3 separate regions of the Homo sapiens genome follow, and all the other regions are linked to region 3. The links come from fine-mapping of genetic effects on gene expression. A gene starts in region 3. Each other region holds a variant in brackets. All regions are shown on one strand. Distances are between the middles of the regions.

Region 1 (2,762 bases), 25 kb after region 3:
ACTGTTATGAGGTAGAATAAAAAAGAATACTTTGTAATAGCCACAAGTTCTTGTTTAGAGACCAGAGCAGGATTAATAATTTATTTTAACATTTTAGTGTTTGGTGGCACATTCTAAAATATAGATTAAGAATACTTAAAATGCCTGGGATAGTTCTTGGGACTAACAACATGATCTTCTTTGAGTTAAACCTACCTAAGTAGATTTTAGGTGGGTTCCTATTAGGTCAGATTTTTAGCTTCCCTAATTACCTTTCACTGACATATACAGAAAAAGGAGCAGTTTTAGTTTTAATTAATTAAAATTAACAGATGTGATGAGGATTAAATGAATCAAAAGACTTAATTTGTAGATTCTTTTAGAGTTATGAGCTAGGTATAGTTTGGGGAAACTCAACCTGGTGCTGGTGCTCTTAACAATTTTGTAAATAAAGAAGATAATTTCCTTTTCTAGAGGTACATATTAGGCCTTTTATGAACACTAAAACAATGAGGAAATGTTGGTCATGGGGCAAAGTATCACTTAAAATTGAATTCATCCATTTTTAAAAAACACTTCATGAAAGCATTCTGGTGTGAATTGCCATTTTTTTCTTACTGGCTTCTCAATTTTCTTCCTTCTCTGCCCCTACCTAAAACATTCTCCTCGGAAATTACATGGTGCTGACCACAAAGTTTCTGGATGTTTTATTAAATATTGTACGTGTTTACAGTTGGGAATTTAAAATAATACATACACTGGTTGATAAAGGGAAGCTGCAGGACCAAGGTGAAGATTGATAGTCCAAATGCTTTTCTTTTTTGAGTTGTATATTTTTTCACACCATCTTAGATATAATTAGGTAGCTGCTGAAAGGAAAAGTGAATACAGAATTGACGGTATTATTGGAGATTTTTCCTCTGCGTAGAGCCATCCAGATCTCTGTATCCTGTTTTGACTAAGTCTTAGGTGGGTTGGGAAGACAGATAATGAAGTAGGCAAAGAGAAAAGGACCCAAGATAGAGGTTTATATTCAGAAATGGTATATATCAATGACAGCATATCAAACTTCCTATGGGAAAAAGTCTGGTGGGTGGTCAGCTGACAGATTTCCCATTTAGTAGTCATAGAATACAGAAATAGTTTAGGGACATGTATTCATTTTGTTATTTTGAGCATTGATAGGTCAGTATATCTACCTAATCTGTTTGGTAAGTATAGGATATATAAACCATTACCATTGATCTGTCTTATGCCATAATCTTAAAAAAA[AT/A]TTGAATGCTCTTGAATTTGTATATTCAATAAAGTTATCCTTTTATATTTTTTATGTCAGACTACTCATTTGAAAAATAGCTTTTTTTTTTAATTGACAACTGGGAATATTTTTCTTTTGAGATGGGTGAATGGTGATATTCTTTCAGCAAATAGTATGTTAATGAAACAGTCATGTTAACATATATTCAGAAATTAAAGAGGAAGAAAAATTTACCCAAAGGGTAGATAAGGAGACATTCTCTAAGAAAGTTTAATATTCAGGGCTGTTGTTTTAACTTTCATTAATGGCAAAGAACTTGGTTGATATTGAGGGGGAAGTAAAAGGGAGCTAGTGTTTTTAAATATACCCAGTGTTACAAATTAGTTCTCGGGGAATTTCAGTCCCACTGAAGAATATTGCCTCAATTTTGGACAAATATTCCCAATGTGCTAAATCAGAATTGGCAGGGAGCTTTTATATGCGTATTCTTTAGATTTTTAAGCCTTCTGAAGACCATTTTAAATAATGGGAAATGTCTCTAAAATATTTGAATTTCTAAGGATAGACTAAGAAGGTAACTAGTTAATGCCATTTCCTCTTAATCAGCTATTTTTCACTGTCAGTTTTTAAAAATTCCTAGTGCTCAGGCTCGATAAAACTGTTAAGGGTATTTTCATTTAAAAAGCCTTAGACATTTAGAACTATTAATATAACAAGCTACAAGTATTGGTTTTTGAAGCAGGCTGAGCTCTCTGGCATTTTTAATGAAACTTCCTTATAAGGAGATGATTATAGTTGTCTTAATGACCTAAATATGTGGCTCAATAATGGTTATTCCAAAGAATTAATCATGGTTTACTTCAAGATAATGAGCAAGTCATCAAGTAAAACGTTAATATCTTACTGTTCCTGGCATCAGCATTTTAGGGACAAAATGGTGTTACAGATGTCAGAATATTGATTGCATAAAATCTTGAAACCCACAAAACTCGTAGGCTTAAGTCTTAGTAATTTCTGTTGTTTATGTAATTTCAGCCCTGCACGTCACTGAAAAGTTATTTATCTTAACAAACTGGCCAAATTTGGCGGGTAATGCTGTCTGCCAGTATCTGCAGATGTATTGTTTCCGCCTACATTTGTGCATGTTGTCTGTGGTCTTTAAAGAACACTAACACCAGATAGAAATGTCAACTCTGTTCAGATTTTTTCCTATGTTCGAAGAACTGATGTTGCTGATTCCTAATTTTGTCAAATTATGTGTCTGAACTGTCTTCCTTTCTTGAAAGGTAGATATTACCAAACGTATACCAGATAAGTAATCAGAAGTAGTTAATATTGTGTCAAGTTACAGCACAGTTTTCAACAAAGTAACCACAAAGGTCAGTGCTAAGGCAAATATTTAGTAAACGATGTTTTAGCTATCTAAAGTAAAAAGGCATGATCTTAGGAAAGTGATTGCAAATTAAAAGAGAGAAAATTAAAAAACTGAAGTTTGGAAAACAAGTAATTGCAACAGTTTCAAGAGTTT
Region 2 (2,762 bases), 47 kb after region 3:
GGCCCTGGAGCCCATCATGTCCCATGGTTCACGTTTTTCCGCCTGGAAACTGCATGCCTGTCTTTCTGCTTTGCCAAAGTTTCCTTCGCACGAGGAGGGCCCTGAATTACAGAAGTCGCTTTTCTCCAGTCAGTTCAAGCCAGCCTGGCGCGAGTCCCTCATTCTCCTTTGTCAACGAGGCAAAGACTCAGTTGTTCACCCAACTGTGTCTTGCTGGGGGGCAGCCCTTTCCCTGCCCTTCCCTCTCTCTCAGAAGCCCCAAGTGGGCCTTTCCCCGACCCTACTCTGAGCGCGTGGAAAATCTGCTTCGGGCGCAGATCTCGAGTAGTTGGCCTCCCCTCATTTCCGTCTTTCGCTTCTGCCCGCGTGGGGCCACTTTGGTATAGGTGGGAATTAAGCCGGGGAGGGAGGAGTAGGTCGGAACAGTTTGCAGCTGGCGGCTCGCTGATTGGGTGTTATTTTACAGCTGGGCAGAAATGACCGCGGTAGCACTCCTGGGGAGGCCTCTAAAGCTGCAGACACGATGTGTCGCGGGACCATCCAGTTCTGGCCCCGTGCAGGAGGACAGGACGCCGTCTGGTCGCTGCCCTGGGCGCTCAACATGGGAGCTGCCAGAGGAGAGCGCCCTGTGAGTGCCTGACAAATGGAGGTATTTCTTTCCAGGTTTTACAACCCGATGTATTTTCAGGGAGGACCTTCCTAGGTACCTCCACTTCTCAGTCTCTCAACTCAGCAGCCTCCATCCATTTCCACGAATCCGCTGGACTCGCTCCTGCAAAACACGGTGTGAAATTGACTTCTAACTGGAAGCCTTTCTTTTCCAACCCCATCCACTGCAATTCTTCTGTTTTCAGCACTCTGGTGTTCTGTGTTTTTTGTTGTTGTTGTTTTTGTTTTTGTTTTTTTCATGTGTTTAGCTCGGGCTTTGAAAGAATCTGAAATCTTATCTTTTAATTTCAAATTCCCTAAAGCCACAGAGTGCATCTTTCCCTGTCCCACACAGTGCCTAGTTCAGTTCTTGTCCCACAGTATATTAACCAACTGCCACAAAGCCTCATGTATGCCACACAACTAAACACCAGGACGTCTGAAGGAAAAACTCTAGAAAACTCTAGAGTGGCTCTTTGGAGCAGGAAGAGCTGCTACACTCCCAATGCCCTCTGAGAGCTGCCAGGTCCCATGATGCCTTCTCTTGTGTGTAGACTGAGATGTATTCATTAAGGGTAACACGGTGATTTTTTGTTTGTGCTCCCTTAATTAAAAAAAAAAAAAAGATTTGGTGGGAAAGGCAGATGGAAGTTCTTGAAGGGGGCTACTTCAGAGCAGGTCTTTCTGAGCCCCCTTGAAGCACACCGTGTGTGTGTGTGCGTGTGTGTGTGTGTGTGTGTGTGTGTGTGTGTCTGGGACCCCAGAGTCAATCCAGATGATGCTGATATAGTTACATTTGAGAACCAGTGGTAGGTAGATCTTTGCTACTCTAGTCCTCAGGCAAACAGCATCAGCCTCACCTAGGAGTTTTTAAGAAATGCAGAATCTCAGGACCCAGCCA[G/T]ACCTACTGCATAGAAGTCTGCATTTTAACAAGATCTCTAGGTGATTGGTGTATACACAAAAGTGTAAGAATCCCTGCTTTAGTAATGACTGCTCTGGGAACAAGCTTAAACTTGGGCAACCTGGACCTATGGTCACCCATCCTATCAGGGAGATAGATGGTAGATGGTGGGCTAGGGACAGGGTGAGAGGAAATCTGAGCAGCCACAGATCTGGGGTCCTCTCCCTCCCAAACTGGCCCCTGATTTAGAAATATGGTCTCAAGAGCCTATCTTTCTGTCCCCAGTTTTCACCGTAGACAACTTTCTAATAATTGAACTGTCTGTCCTGCCTGCTAGTTGCCTTTGTTATTATCGTAATCATTAGTGGTTGCTGGAAGTGGGGCAGGGTGTGTTTAGGTGAGCAGGGGGGAGTGTTAATGAGCCCATGGGTCTGGTGTGAGGGGGAGATCCCTGTACCTATCACAACCCTGTGCCTTTATTGCATGCTCCTTTACACACCCTCCACCCCTTGAAGAGGCTTCCCCTGGCCCCCTGCCCAGTAACTTACTTACTATGAATATTCCGTTGCTACATCCTGTTTCTGCTTTTGACTTTGCATCCTGTTCCAGACCCTTAGCCTGCTCCCTAGCCTCTAATCTGACTCTTCCATTAACTGTCAAACCTTCAACAGATAATTCTTTTAGCATCTGCTGTGCACACCAGTAAGTGCTGAAGATTCAAGGTGAACCCAAGACACAATCCCTGCCTTATGGGGTTTACAGCATTGTGTGGACATCCATCATTCACTCAGTCCTCACTGCACCAGAGACGACACTAAATGCTTCACTTGCATAATCTCACTTTTCTCAGTCATAACTGTCAGGTTGTCCCCACTTCATAGTTGAAGAAGCCATGGCTCAAAGACTTAAATAATTTTCCCAGGGTCATAGCTAATTGGTGGCACAGGCAGGAGGATTTAAGCCTAAGTCTGATTGCCTCAAAAATGTCTTAAACCACTCTGTAAAAGACTGTTCTTCATCACTGTATCTCCAATGCTCAGGACAGTGCCTGGTATGTATCACACAATCAACATTTGTGGAAGGAAGGAAGGATGTTGTTTTGAGCCGTCTCTTGGGCTCCACCCTTCAAATACAGAGCCACCTCAAACCCAGCCCTGAGGTTTCTCAGTACCTCTGGGCACCACATCTTCCTTCCTCACAGATCCCCCAGCCC
Region 3 (2,762 bases):
TAATAAGTATTATGTAGAAGGAAGGAAGACTAGACTGAGGTTAAAACTATAATTGGTAAAGAAGCAGCAGGCACTCATATTAGCTAGGATAAGGAGATATTTGATCATTTTTATGGCTTGGGCAATGTTGATGTTGTGTCTGTGTTCACATATGATTATAGAGTGATCTTACTTTTGTCTTGATCTATCACGGTCACAACTCTGTCTTGTCTGATGTTCTGTGAAATTGTTTATGTTCAACAGAAGAATACCAATGCTTGGCTGTGATTGCCAGGCCAGCTCAAAGCAACAGCAAACCAAGCTGGTAGTACCAGGCCATCTCCTGGATGTCAAGGTCTGCTTTTCTCTTTCTCGGTATCCACACTAGAATCCTTGATTTACTCTCTTCCACCTCACTCAATCAAAAACCATTACCTCACAGACTTCCCTTCTATGTGGCACTACCACCCACACATATGCTAGCCCAAAACCTAAGATTCACTGTTGATGATGCCCTTTTCTTCATTTTCCATAGCCAATCACCAAATCCCATTGTCTTCTTTCTTTTATTTCTTCCGCCATTGTTCTGGTCCAAACTACCATTATGTTTCTCCTAAACATAAAGTGCATCCTATTTCCTCTGCTTCCACACTTGCCCCTCTACAATCCATTCTCTTCATAACAGATAGATCATATTACTCCCTTGCTTTAAAACTTTCAAATAGCTTCCAATTGTACTCAGAACAAACACTAAACTTCTTACCCTGGCTTTCAAGGACCCTGGTCTGGCTTCTGCCTAACTCTCCACCTTCATCTATCTGGGACTATCTTGCGGCTCACTCACTATGCTTCCCCCACACTGGCCTTTCCTGCCCTGCCCCTGCAACATACCAAGTTCCTCTTTCTCTCTGCATTTGCCCTATCCTTTCTTTGCCAGGACAACAGTCTCCCTACCAGCTCTTTCTCATCCAGGTCTCTTTGAGAGGGCTTCCCTGACCATCTAGATGCCACCTTCCTGGTCAGTATTTCCCTCAAGTAGTAATCAATGCCGGAAAGAATACTGTTCATTTATTCATCCGTTATTGTCATCGCTTCATTGGAATTTAGCTTCCTACAGGGATGGTGTTTATCTTGCTCACTATGATTCCAGCCCCTAGAAAAACCCACCTACCTCATAGCCAAGGGCTCAGTAAATAGTATACACTGCCTTCCTGCCACTGTGCTAATTTCTACTAACACAGCCACAAACAATCAGCAATTACATTTTCTGCTTGTTTTTAACGGGGAAGTAGGGCACTCAACGAAAAGGAAATAAAAGCAGAGTCAAGAAAGTGCCTTTTATCCATGGAGTGCCCAATGTGTTGTGCGGCCGGCCACGTATATAGGGATGTGTCAGCACCTGAGATTTTTCCTTCTCTGAGCTAGCTTCTTTCCTGGAAATCATGCTGGGCCCTTAGCCTTATGGTTCACCCTGTTTTTTAAGATCATCCACGGGCTTCATTCCCGTAACCGCTCTTCTAGCTGGCCAAGGCGGCGGGAAGAAACCCCACCCTCTTGCGCAAACGCCCAGTAGCGGAATCCGCGGGGTCGAGGGCTTTAGTGTGCGCATGTGCAACCAGAGCGGCGGCGGGAAGTGTTGCGCAGGCGCATCCGATCGACTCGGTAGGTGGGGATCTCTTGGAGACGGCGACCCAGGCATCTGGGGAGCCACAGAAGTCGTACTCCCTTAAACCGTGAGTTTCCGACGGTTTGTTCCATGGCGCGGGATTGTGAGGGATTAGGAACGAATTCTGGATCGTGACTTCGGTTTTCTCGCCGTGCAGTTCCTTTTCCCGCCCCCCTTCGGATCCCTCCGACCTGCGGCGGGAAAGTCGCGCGCCTGCGCACTAAGCATCTGGTTCGGTCTCTGGCCCGAGGGAAGCCGGTCCTTCCCGGCTGAGCTCGCGGCCAGCGCTGGCCGGCGGATTCCCATTCATTCACCCTTCTCCTCCTCCGCCCAGTACTCGTGGCCAGGGTCGTATCAGTTCTCCGTCAACTTGCTTGGGGCCTTGGACGAGCCTCCTGGCGCTTCCTGTCAGTGGCGAAAAGGTTTTCTCCCTCAGTTCTTTTCCTGACTTCAAACCGCCCCCGGCGCTCGGCCCCTCCCCCACGCGGTCCCGCTGGCTGTGCCGGACTGGCAGCCTCGCCGTTTCCCACTGCGCCTGCTGCTGCGCGGGTGCCCAAGCCGGGAAATTCTCCCTGCAGCCCCCTGCCGGTGTTTCTGATAGGTGAAAATAAAGCACATGGAATTCCTTAGACAAGGCCACAGTATGCCCTACTGTGGAGGTTTGGACACATCGTGCGTTTGAAAATGTTTGCCCCTTTGGGGGGCAGTAGCATGTTTTTAGTGCGTGGTTTAGCGAGTGATCTAAATTTCTCTAGTGTTCTAATTTTCACAGCTGCTTTGCTCCCCCTGTGGATGTAACCCCTTAGCTGGCATTTTGCATCTCAATTGGCTTGTGATGGAGGCGTCTTTGGGGATTCAGATGGATGAGCCAATGGCTTTTTCTCCCCAGCGTGACCGGTTTCAGGCTGAAGGCTCTTTAAAAAAAAACGAGCAGAATTTTAAACTTGCAGGTACGTGTTTAAATCCAAAGATGTACAGTTATAAAGATTTTTCAGGCAACAATTCTGTGTTTTCAATTCCTCTCAAAAAATAAGATTGAATCTTATAAAGTGAATTGTATGTTTCTATAGGACAGTGTTAAAACAGAGCTTCGTATGATCTAAATGTAGGACTGAAT

The links. PIP is the estimated chance that this variant, and not a neighbour inherited with it, causes the effect.
Region 1: its variant is the best candidate, but not a certain one, in a credible set for the expression of CDC7 in cerebral cortex (GTEx, PIP 0.52).
Region 2: its variant is the best candidate, but not a certain one, in a credible set for the expression of CDC7 in whole blood (INTERVAL, PIP 0.86).

Annotation. Positions count from the first base shown.
Region 1 is chr1:91,524,459-91,527,220 of GRCh38, forward strand. It overlaps CDC7 (cell division cycle 7), which reads left to right. Exons shown (of 12, transcript NM_003503.4): 12 at 1-1,306. All of the region lies in intron 4 of LOC102723436 (a long non-coding RNA gene), which reads right to left. Among named protein-coding and RNA genes, the nearest start is that of CDC7, 25 kb to the left of the region's middle. The variant AT/A (reference allele first, on the strand shown) is at 1,252.
Region 2 is chr1:91,546,505-91,549,266 of GRCh38, forward strand. The region is part of intron 3 of LOC102723436 (a long non-coding RNA gene); the gene reads right to left. Among named protein-coding and RNA genes, the nearest start is that of CDC7, 47 kb to the left of the region's middle. The variant G/T (reference allele first, on the strand shown) is at 1,550.
Region 3 is chr1:91,499,237-91,501,998 of GRCh38, forward strand. It overlaps CDC7 (cell division cycle 7), which reads left to right and starts at 1,615. Exons shown (of 12, transcript NM_003503.4): 1 at 1,615-1,712; 2 at 2,418-2,595. The coding sequence starts at 2,481. It overlaps LOC105378856 (a long non-coding RNA gene), which reads right to left and starts at 1,612. Exons shown (of 3, transcript XR_947599.4): 1 at 1-1,612. RefSeq lists an enhancer at 2,257-2,456.